3 linked regions of the Homo sapiens genome follow. The protein of the gene in region 2 interacts with the protein of the main gene of each other region in a pairwise test. Each region holds a gene or a part of one and is shown on either strand. Other genes may lie near its edges.

Region 1 (3,655 bases), on a different chromosome or scaffold from region 2:
TTAATTTTTAATTAACCTTAGCTTTCAATGAAAAAACCAAGTTCACATGCATTTCAACTTCCACTGAGCCAACGTTTTACACTGGGCTCTTACGATAAAATCTGGGATCAGAGTATATGCCTCTAAATTCTTCCAGACGTTTCATTAATCTAAGAGAAAGGCTGCCTTACATAATCATATAGTCTAAAGCTATATTATGAATGAAGTCATCCACCTAAAAAAAACCCATTTTTTAATTAGTTAGATGCAAGTTAGGTCAAAAAATGTTTCAGCCTTCAAACTAGCTCTTAAGAATTATTACCAAAACATGTAAAAATATGCCAGAAAAAAAAAGAGAAAACCCTGAGAAACACATGCCATAAAAATTACCTTCATACTCTCCATTTCTGTCAGCTCAATTTGAAGAGCCAGCATCTCTGAAGACATGCTTTCCTGCACACGTTCAGACATTACGCGCAGTTCCTCTGATTTACAAGAGAGGAGTTCCTTCTGATGATCTACTTGGTGCTTCAGCTGCTTTTCACTAAGCCTGGCTTCATCTAATTCCACTTTCAGTTTTTCTATCTAAAGCCAAAAAAAAAAAAGTCATAAATTGAAAGTTATTTTCTTTCTAAAAACAATCACTGATTGAACTGATTGAACCAAACTTACTGAATGATGATACTATTGGAGTTTCCTATTTGCCCAAGGTTAGGCATCTTTTAACAGCTAGTGACACACCTTGTTTAATAAACATAGAAATAATCCATGAGTAATCGGGGTGGGTCTGGATGCCTCAGAAGCAATCTGGAGGCACTATGATGCGGACCACTTGGCTACTGTGTGAAGAATGACTGGCATGAAGAGAAACAATGGAAGCAAGCAACCTGGTCAGAAGGCTACAGCAGTAGTCCAGGAAAGAGATGATGAAGGTCTGGATTGGAGTGGCAGTAGCGTCATAGATGTTTTGTAGGTCAAGTTCTTAGAACTTGATGAATTAAATGTGAAAAATAAGAGAAGAAAAGGTATTAAAAAAATCCAAATTTTGGCATAAGTGATTTGAGAAAATCAGTAAAACAAAATATTTCACTAATGTACTCTTTGCTCCACCAAAAAAAAAAAAAAAAAAAAAAGCCATCTCTATAATTAGCCTTACCTCAGTCCTGAATACTCCCTTTATTACTCTTTTTTGTTTAGGTGATGAAAACTATTGCAAAAATAAAAATAACAACCAGAGGGGGAAGAAAGCACATCATTATCAGTCATTAGGGCCTCAAATCCGACTAGTTTCAGACAAGCTGGATGATATTATCTGTCAGAGTGGTATGCAAGATGATTATATATTACATGAAGGTATATTTAGATAGCTATGTTTGTTTTAGTGTATACTGGGAAAAAATAAGCAAGCTTAAATATGTAATTTTGGCCAGGCGCAGTGGCTCAGGCCTGTAATCCCAGCACTTTGCGAGGCTGAAGTGGGCGGATCACGAGGTCAGGAGTTAGAGACCAGCCTGACCAACATGGTGAAACCCTGTCTCTATTAAAATACAAAAATTAGCTGGGCGTGGTGGCGCACACCTGTAATCCCAGCCACTTAGGAGCCTGAGGCAGGAGAATCGTTTGAACCCGGGAGGCAGAGGTTGCAGGTGAGCCGAGATCATGCCACTGCACTCCAGCCTGGGCGACAGTGTGAGACTCTGCCTCAAAAAAAAAAAAAAAAAAAAGGAAAAAAAAATACTTTCATTGATGTTTCTTAAAATCAGTAAACATTAAAAGAGAGTCAATGAGAAATTAAGTAATAGTATAGGTGGTATACAGAAAAAGAAAAATCTTAGAGGCTGCTATACAAGAAGCTGAAAATTGGGTAACAGACTTCTGAGAAAGGAGGACAAAAGTCAGGCAAGTTTTGGTAGACAGTGTCTGGAAAAGTCAGAGTATAGACTATACACAAAGCAGATCCATGATAAAAAGTTCTGGATTCCTCAGAAGCAACCTGAAAGCACTGGCTAGCTGGGAAAAGGGAAAACCACTGACCAATCATTTATCTTGCGTTTATGTTTGAAATGGAGCCAGTGTAACATGCTGTTAGACTATGTAGTGATTCAGTAACACAGCCTTTGGAGTCAGACAGCCTCAGTTCAAACCTAGATGGAGAATTTCTAGTTCTTGAATTGTGTCCAATTTACTCAGTCTGTCTAAACACTGGCTCTTTCATCTGGTATATGGAAATGATAATGGTACCTTTCCACAATATTATTGTAAGAACTGGAGCACATGTATTAGTTTATCCTCAGTAAACAAACTATAAAGTGTCATTTGTAATGCACATTAACTAGTAAGAAACTACTGGTCTGTTTTACAGAATTACAAAGCATACCACTGACTGCAGGGAAGGCTAGGAGACGAGGCTTTCTGCAAGGGGCTGCTGTACCCACTATCAGCAAGGAGGCCATGCTAGTCACTAAACTAAACCTTCACAAATATCCAGCAACCAAAATTAAATAATTGTATTTAATTAATAGGATATAATTTATACAAGTCCCTTAGACAAACTCTTGTATCTCAGTGTTCCCACCCCCAATATTAAGATAATGAAGACTTAGATCTTGGCTATTTTGCAAAGCTGACACTTAAGAAAATCTTTATCATCTAAAGTTTACAGATGGCTGCATAAATATGGAATATTTTGTGCTGAAATACGCAGATATCCCAACCTTAGTTTTTAGTTCATTCACTTCCTGTCCATGGCTTCTGCTTAGTTGTTCTTCCAATTTCTCCAGGTGCATTTTTTGTTGTTGTTTAATAGCTTCACATTCGCAGCTCAAACTTTCTAACATTCGACTCTTGAGTTCAACTTCTCTTTGAAGGGTATATTTTTCTTGTTCATAACTCTGAAAACAGATTCAATTACAATTCAATTACATAAAAATAGCCTAAAGCCATTACATACAATCAGTTTTCAACTTCAATTGTTTCATTCTTATTTCAAGCATTTGCTGCTTTCCAAATAACGAAGACATGTTAAACCTGGAATAACTTTGTAGTTAATCAGTCTTAATAAACCCCTGAGGTGTATTTCGAAACTATGTTAAACCCATGCAAGGGATACCTTACTGCTTCTGTGCCTTGTCAAGGAAGTAAAATGTGCTCCATGGTATGTCAACACGTCAAGTCAAGTAATCTCTGCTAACAACAAAAAAAGATTTAACAGCACTTAAGCTTTCCTCATGAGAATTATTAGTTTGATAATGAGATGCTCTACTTGTAGCTCTGAACACAATGTAGTAGTAATAATAGTTGAAAAAAAAGAAATACTGAATTAGCCTTTACTTTCAGAATGTAGTCATCTGAGAAATGTCACAAAAGGTCTATCAGAATGAATGCAGAGCTGAGACAAAAGGAGTAATTAAAAGGGCTTTTGCTTACTCACAGGGAAGTTTAGACATTAAAAATGTTACAAGTACGAACTCCTTCAAGAGGCTTTAAAAAATGATAAAATATTCCCCTCAAAAACCATTTTATTTTAAAGGAAGACAAAGAGTATTAACTGTTAAACACTGAAATTTGACAAGTTATGACTCAAAATGATTAAGTATAACAGTTTTATTTTCTATTAGTGATATTTGTAATCTTTACTTTGCCTTTATGACTTTGCACTCAGTTCTTGGTTTACAAC
Region 2 (3,655 bases):
TTGCCACTATTGATATAGATTACCTTATATTATTGGCATGGGAGAATATTATCTCTAACAAATGTGCTGTAGAGAAATAAAACATCTACATTTATTTTTTGTTGCAGTAAATTTATACTTATTATTCTACGCTCTCTTGCTCCATTACACTCATTGGTGTATATCTGCAAAGTTATAAACTAGAGAGGTAAGGATGTGGTTTGGCACTGTTATAGTTTCTCACCATTGAAAAGAATGTTGACAATCTTGTACTTATAAACGAGTGAATAAGTGAATATCTAAAGGATATAACTTTAAAAATGTGAACACATATTCCCCAGGCCAAAAGTAAAAGCAGGTCTTTATTGGCTCTGCTCACAGATAAGGGATAGTACTTAGCACTCTCCAGTGAAATACTGATATGAGGGCATTGTGTTCAATGAGTTCATAAAGAAAACATAAAGCAGCAGAAAAACAAATTGCTTAAATTTGCATAACTGAGTACATACCTAGTATCTACTAGACTTTAATTACTTTGAATAAAAGGACTGTGTGTTTATGAACACTACATATACCCTGTCTTTGTTGACAATAAACCCAAATACATCCCTGAATGGTAAGATCATAATTTTGTTCAAATATAGCTTTCATATAGACATCGTGACTATTATGCACTAACAAACTGAGCTATTTGGCTAAAAATTTACAGAAAACAATCTTCTAAAGCAGGAATCATATCTTTTTTGTTTAGCCAAAGAGCTTTATACTTAGTAGGTGCATAGTTAAGTATCTTGATGAATAAAATTTTTGAATACTTCTTGTGCATTAATATTTACCAGCCACAAAAGCTGGAAATACAAAGGTTTACAAGGTCTCTGTCTTCAAAGACTTGTAGTCTAGGGATAAAAGATAAAAGTAAGCCAAAAGTTATAACAAAATTAGTTAAGTGTTAGAATTTAGGGAAAGAGAGGTAGAAAAAGAAGAAGTTACTTTCACTGGGATGGGTCAAGTGTCAGAAGAGGATTAACTGATTAATAAATAAGGGAGAAAAGATAGTGCTTTACCCACAAAATATAAATAATCCAATTATAACACTAGGTAACGGAATCAGGCAGACAATTTGACAGTAAGACTTACCACAGGACTTTTGCACAGAATAAACAATATGTGATACTTCAAAGTATTAGAAATTAGAGAACATCACTGAACAAAATATTTTTAGTCTAACTGAATTTCTACTTTCTTTTAAGTTCCTAAAATGCCTAAAAATTACAGGTATTTAAATACACTACTATCACACTATGAATTAAAAGTATTAGCTTTACTTCCAATAGCCACTAGTAAAAAAAAATTACAATTAACACTAAAGAAAGTTGAAGTTTAAAAAAATTAAAAATATTATGTTGATCTTCATAAGCTAATATTCACCCCAATATTATAAAAATAAACCTCTATAAAAAGCCTTTTGAGAATTTTTTATAAGACACACGTTGCTCTTTCAAGACTGTAAAAAGTTACACTGATTTCCAAAGTATTCAGCTTATAAAATCTCTTATACAAATAAACATTATTGATTGGGCTTGATAATTCAATACTTAATTTTTATAATAAGGACTCAACACTAATTTTTTAATAAAAATAACAAATGCAAAAAAAAAAAAAAAAAAACAAAACAAACCAACCCATGATTTACCTGCATAGGTTTGGTAAGTGGATCCATTCTAACTAAGTAAACTTCCAAGGTGCGTTCTTTTTTCATGGGCAATGGAAGTGTCAAGTAACAAAAAGGATCAAATGTTACTGAAATCTTAGCACACTCAGGACAAACTAAAGTTGATTTGAAAAGGCCATGAAATATATCTACTATGATAGAATCATTTCGTTTTAAATGGTTTTCCCAGGCTTCTTCGGCAACCACCTACAAGGATAATAGACACAAATTAGAAAGAGGTATCACAAAATTATAACAATGGTGACAATAGGATCATGAAATTTACCTTATCTGGCCTTCCATCTGCATCTTTTAATTGTATATATGGTTTTTTCCTAATTCTATTCAAATCCTCATGTAATCCATCTAATAGGAAAGCTAACAGTTCTTGACAGTCTTGCTGCTGATATCCAGAGAACTGAGGTGCAAAACGTCCTACCTGTGTCTGTAAGAAATGCAAAACCATCAAATCAGTTCTAGGAACAGGGTTGATTTTTAAACATATGTACAATAGATTCTCATTATTCATGGATTCCACATTTGTGAATTTGCCTGCTTTCTAAAATGTATTTGTAACCCCAAAATCAATTCATGGTCATTTGTAGATATTTTCAGAGTGGCAAAAAATTTGAGTCACCTGATATGCATGTTACCAGCTGGGGTTGAACAAGGTGATGCTTTGGCTTGTTGTTTCAGCTCTGAATCTATAAACAAGTGTCCTTTGTAGTTTATTTAGTGTTATGTTTTTTCACATTTTTGTTTGTTTTGTTGTTAATTTCAGTGTTTAAAATGGTCACTAAATGAAGTACAAACATGCCAGCTAGTGTTCCTAAATGCAAGAAAGCTGTGATGTGCTTTATGGAGAAAAAGTATGTGTTAGATATGCTTCATTAAGACATGAGTTATAGCACTGTTTGCTGTGAGTTCAATGTTAAGGACTCAACAATATATATTAAACAAGTTGTTTTTAAACAGAAACACATGCAAAACAAAGTTATACATTGTCTGGTTGACGAAAATGTTGTGAACAAAGGCTTGGAGGAATCAAACCCTATAGTTTCCCTAGGAGTAATGGTTCAGTAGTTGTTATTTCAGTGTTTGTGGCAGCTTCATTGAACATAACTCCTGTGAATAATAAAAATTGTATACACGAACAACAGGAATATATATGAATTATATTTTGTTTTGCATTCCTAGTAAGCACTCAACAAAGCTTATCTGGGACAAAATAGATCAACACATGTAATCTTTAATATATAAAAATGTATTGATCTTTGTTTGGTCATAGATTTCATTGTCATTAATTGTTGTTTCACTATTTGTCAAAGGATTTTCCAGATGTCCTTAATTCTTAGCTTTAGGTATTCCTATTGCCTCCTCCTATAAATGTCTGGTAGGTAGACAGGAAGAGGCAGGTTCTCATCCTTGCTATATTACCACATAAAGATAATTACGTATCTGAAAGCATTTTTAAGATAACTACTCTAGGCTCTCACTTAGTTTCTATGCGCAAAAGGAGGATGAGTATCACAGAGATAACAGAAACATTAATGTTCATATTCAATTTTCCTAATCTTTCATCACTAAGTATTTTTGTTTTTGGATGAGACTGAAAATAAATGTAATAGTATGAATCATCATCTGACAGAAAAAAAGTCACACATAAAGAACCTATTTACACATAATTTTAAGAGAGAAAATCTACCAAAATAAAACCAATTAGAATGCTAGTAAGAGCTGAGAGATGGTTTGTCTGGACTAGTTTGTCCAAAGTTTAGAATGTTAAGGAAGACAATACAGAGGCATTTTGATTTGCTGGTTTTTTATTTTCTAAGAACTAGTATATAGCTAATAAAAAATGTTGTCCAGTAGATGTCCTCTATCAATGCCATTTAAATTACTTGTATAAATAACGACTTAAAACTGCTTATTCTCTCTACAAGTTTAAAACTTCTCAAAGTTTCA
Region 3 (3,755 bases), on a different chromosome or scaffold from region 2:
TGGGCATGGTTGGGGAATGGAGGGCATTTCCTCTGGAAAGAAAAGGCAGAGGAACCAGTAATGGCCCAGGAGTGCTGATATCCTTACTGGGGTGCACATTTTTGTGAAATGAGACCCCTTGCCAAATAGAACTCTAAAGTTCCTTCAATTCACATGCCTAGAGAAGAAAATAATCAAACTCTTCTGTCAGGGATCACCTGGCTCCCCACATCCCCTCACTTAGGATGTTTTATTCCCACTGGAGCATGTGATTGGAAAACAAAGGTAAATAGGAGCAATTGATTCCCGGATCCTTTTTTTTCCCCAGCAGGATTAAAGCTGCCTCAGCCATAAAGAGTTTACAAACTCTAAAGAAAGATAATAACTTCCCTTCTCACGGCCCGGTCATGGGGAGGCAATGCATGTTTCCAATCAGCTGAGAATGTAACTCAAATGGTAGGTTTTATTTCACTTTAATCCGCCTGTGAGTTCACGTTAAAGGTAAGAGGAATCACAGCCCTGCAATTCAAATAGGGTTCATTAAATTCGGCATCTCCTCTTAACTGGGCTGGGTTGTTTACTCCTCCCACAGTCTTGGATGGGTTTTGAGGGTCTGGTGCGGTGTCCGGTGAACGGCTGCAATGCAGGTTAGGCTGCCACCATGAGGGAAGCTGGAGGGAGGACCTGTTAACCTCATGGTACTGTGGCGACATCAGCCACCACTACGTGTCACGGGGTGGATGCTGAGGAAGAGAAAACAGAGCAGAGCTGGAGAAGTTCGTACAGTAGATACAGTGGAAGACAGGTGGCTCAGCTGGCAGCCCACTGCAGGGGTGGTGGAGGTCGCAATGCGCTGTCCCCACCACATGGAGCTTGCTTGCCTCCGCACCTCTTTGCTGGCTGCAGCCTTGCTGCTCAGTGGGCGGTTGTGGAAAGAATCGGTTCTCAGTTCCCATTCCAGCTCTGCTATTTAGACACCGGGAGACCTGGAAACAGCCCCTTGACAAAGTCTTGCTCTACACGTTTCTGTAGTGACCGTCCATTTGAAGGGATAGGGAAATATTCCCTCAGTGTCCTGCTGTGAAACTGTTAAAGCCACCCATCCTATGAAACTCACTCCTTTGGGTTAAGCATCACGTTCTCAGTCCTTTCCTGTGTGGATGGAGTGTTGGCACAGTGAGGCGGGTGTTGCAAGTGGACGCGTCGGGGGTGGTCTGCACGGGCTGGCCTGCATAGCCCAGGGGTGGAGAGAGGGGTCAGACTAGAACCTATGGAGACTTGGTGGGCAACAGGCCTGGGCTCAGTCCAGCCAGCCCAACCTCTGATTGCTATCCTCAGAGCCCCTCCAGGGTCTCCTTGGCAGGGGCTGTCCCCTATGAGCCTCTGCAGGGGACAGGAAGTGCTGACTGAGAACTGTCTCTCTGTGACATGCACCCTGTCAAATCCATAAACCTTCCTCAGCAGTCACCACACAGAATCCCAAAACCCCAGGGTTCTGCTTGAGTTAGAGCTACAAAGTCTCAAGGACTAGAAGGAAGCACCAGCCTTGTTCTGCCCCAGCTAGAGGGTCTGCGCTGCCCCAGCCAGAGGGTCTGTGCTGTCCCTGCTGAGGCCTACAGGAGGCAGAGACATTCACCTCCACTTCCTGTCTGCCCATGGCTTCGCGGCCTTCTCACCCCAGCTGGCCAACTGGCTTCCCACCACTATGGGCCTCGCACTGCCCATGCCGGGCCTGAGGGGCCTGGCTCAGACTTTAGTATCCAAGGGGACTGCTGCCTTGACCACCAGAGCCCCCCCGTCTGTGCATCTGTCCTCTGTTCAGCTCTGGAAAGGCCACCGGGAACACAAGAGCCAACAACCCATGGCCTTTGTCTGCAAGGAACTTGAGGTCTCACCGGGCAGACAGGCACGGAGTGAGTGCTCCACCATGGGCCTCCCTTCCTCCAGGTTGCATCCAGGACTATGCTGTCTAGCGTGTCTGCTGTGACTTCCTCATGGCAGAGCCCCACACTGTGGCTGTTTATGGAGCATTTGCAAGTCTCCCTCGAGGGGAGCCCGTGTCTCTCACGGACAGCTTGGCAAGATTCACATTCTTGGAAAAGCAGAGGAATGCGAGGGTTAAAATACCTTAAAGGGCAAGGAGATGATTTCTAGATTTCCAGACAATGTCTCAGAGAATTGTAGTGCTCTGGGGTATGCCTGAATGTAACTAATGTAGCTCCTTTTGTGCCTGAGTGTAGACTGGGTCCATGTGCCTACATGCATTCAGTTCCTCCCACCAAACTGGACAGTGATAGCTAACCCTGTTGACCCTTATGTCTGGGTGCCTTAAATTTGTGATGCCTCAAACTGACCTTCACAATGACTCTAAGGAGGTAAGTACTGTGAACTTTCCCGTTTTCTACAAGAAGAAACTGTGGCACGGAGAGATTCAGTTACTTGTCCAGGATCACAGAACTATAGTAAGTGGGGGTGGGGACAAGAATTCTAACCCAGGCAGCAGTCTGACCAGAGGGCCCTAGCTGGGAGCAGCGTTCATGTGCACTGTATGTTCGTGTTTAGTGTATGTCTGTGCATACTTGCGTGTGTGCACACGCACACATGTTCACTCAGGCACGTGGGCTGCCCTGCGGTGGGAGCTGAGAGAATGCAGTGGAGGTTGTTGGGAGGAACTCACCCGCCTGCTCTGGCTGTCTGAGCAGGTGAGGGATAGTGATATCAAGTGCGAAGACCAGGCCCTGAAGCCAGCCTGACGGTTCCAGCTGTTAGGAGAAAGTGAAGGTGGGTGCCATGGATCTGATGATTTCAGTGATTTTCTACTCAAGAAAAATGAAGTCTCGGATGGGCAGAGCTTAACTGCCTTAAAAACTTGGTACAGGGCAAGGTGTGAGTTTCCCGGTGAGACTGTGTGAACTGTGAACGGGTAGAGTCTGAAACTACAAACCAGATGTTTCCGGGCTCCCTCCCGCCTGGTCTGGCCTGTCTTCCTTCTGCTGCTATGCAGTTCATCCTGGGTCCCTGAGGGCCTCGCAGATGCTTCACTCGAAAGATTGGAGTTGCAGAGTCCCCTGTGGAGGAATTGAACTGCCCCCTCTCGCAGGACCCCAGCTGGCAAGGTTTTGTTCCTCCCTGGAGGGTAGAGACCCTCACTGAGGCCCTGGAGAGGGGCACTCAGGGGCAGCAGCTCATTCCCAAAGTTCTCTGGTGGAGCTGGGGAGTGGCACCCTGGGAACTCTGGGGTTTCCCCACCAGCTCCTCTCTCCAGTCTTTGGTGTCCAGGTACAGTCTCCAGGCCGTGGCTTCTCGAGTTCTGTATGTGGGTTGCTGCTCCGTAATGCATAGTTGGGGGACCATTTTGGTCAGTGACAGATCACTGCTGCTTTTCATCAGACCAAAATACATGTGGCTTCTTCTCCTTGCCAGCCCTACCAGGGCATCTCCCATTATACTAACCCTGCCTATTGGACCTTCTGATGCAAGGAGCAGATTAAAATCCCCTCCCTGTTGCCTACCAGGTCCGTGGCTACAACTAAATCCCTAGTTGGGGAATCACAGAGCACAGGTAAGCCCTTGGGTTCTGGAGCCAGCTTACTGGGGTGTGAGTCTTCCTTAGCTCCGTGTGGATGGTGAGCCCTCCTCTCTCAGGTCTCATGATAGTAGCTAACCCTTATTAAGTGTGTGCTGGGCACTGATTGAATGCTTTACAGGTGTCACCTTCTAAGACCCTCGTAACTCTAGCAGGTAGTACTATTATCTTACCCATTTTCCAGCGGGAG

What was found.
Region 1: the proteins of USP15 (region 2) and SPDL1 interact in binary tests that used the Homo sapiens proteins (3 or more experiments, as listed by UniProt).
Region 3: the proteins of USP15 (region 2) and TIFAB interact in binary tests that used the Homo sapiens proteins (3 or more experiments, as listed by UniProt).

Annotation. Positions count from the first base shown.
Region 1 is NC_000005.10:169,590,263-169,593,917, reverse strand, and holds part of SPDL1 (protein Spindly), read right to left. Parts: exon of another isoform or gene 3,089-3,655; intron 2,871-3,088; coding exon 2,694-2,870; intron 565-2,693; coding exon 370-564; intron 1-369. UniProt on the Homo sapiens protein: Required for the localization of dynein and dynactin to the mitotic kintochore.
Region 2 is NC_000012.12:62,382,320-62,385,974, reverse strand, and holds part of USP15 (ubiquitin carboxyl-terminal hydrolase 15), read right to left. Parts: intron 2,136-3,655; coding exon 1,977-2,135; intron 1,898-1,976; coding exon 1,673-1,897; intron 1-1,672. UniProt on the Homo sapiens protein: Hydrolase that removes conjugated ubiquitin from target proteins and regulates various pathways such as the TGF-beta receptor signaling, NF-kappa-B and RNF41/NRDP1-PRKN pathways.
Region 3 is NC_000005.10:135,443,790-135,447,544, forward strand, and holds the end of TIFAB (TRAF-interacting protein with FHA domain-containing protein B), read right to left. Parts: 3' UTR 3,320-3,755; coding exon of another isoform or gene 2,585-3,319; 3' UTR 437-2,584; downstream 1-436. Other genes in the region: DCANP1 (dendritic cell nuclear protein 1), read right to left, coding at 2,585-3,319. UniProt on the Homo sapiens protein: Inhibits TIFA-mediated TRAF6 activation possibly by inducing a conformational change in TIFA.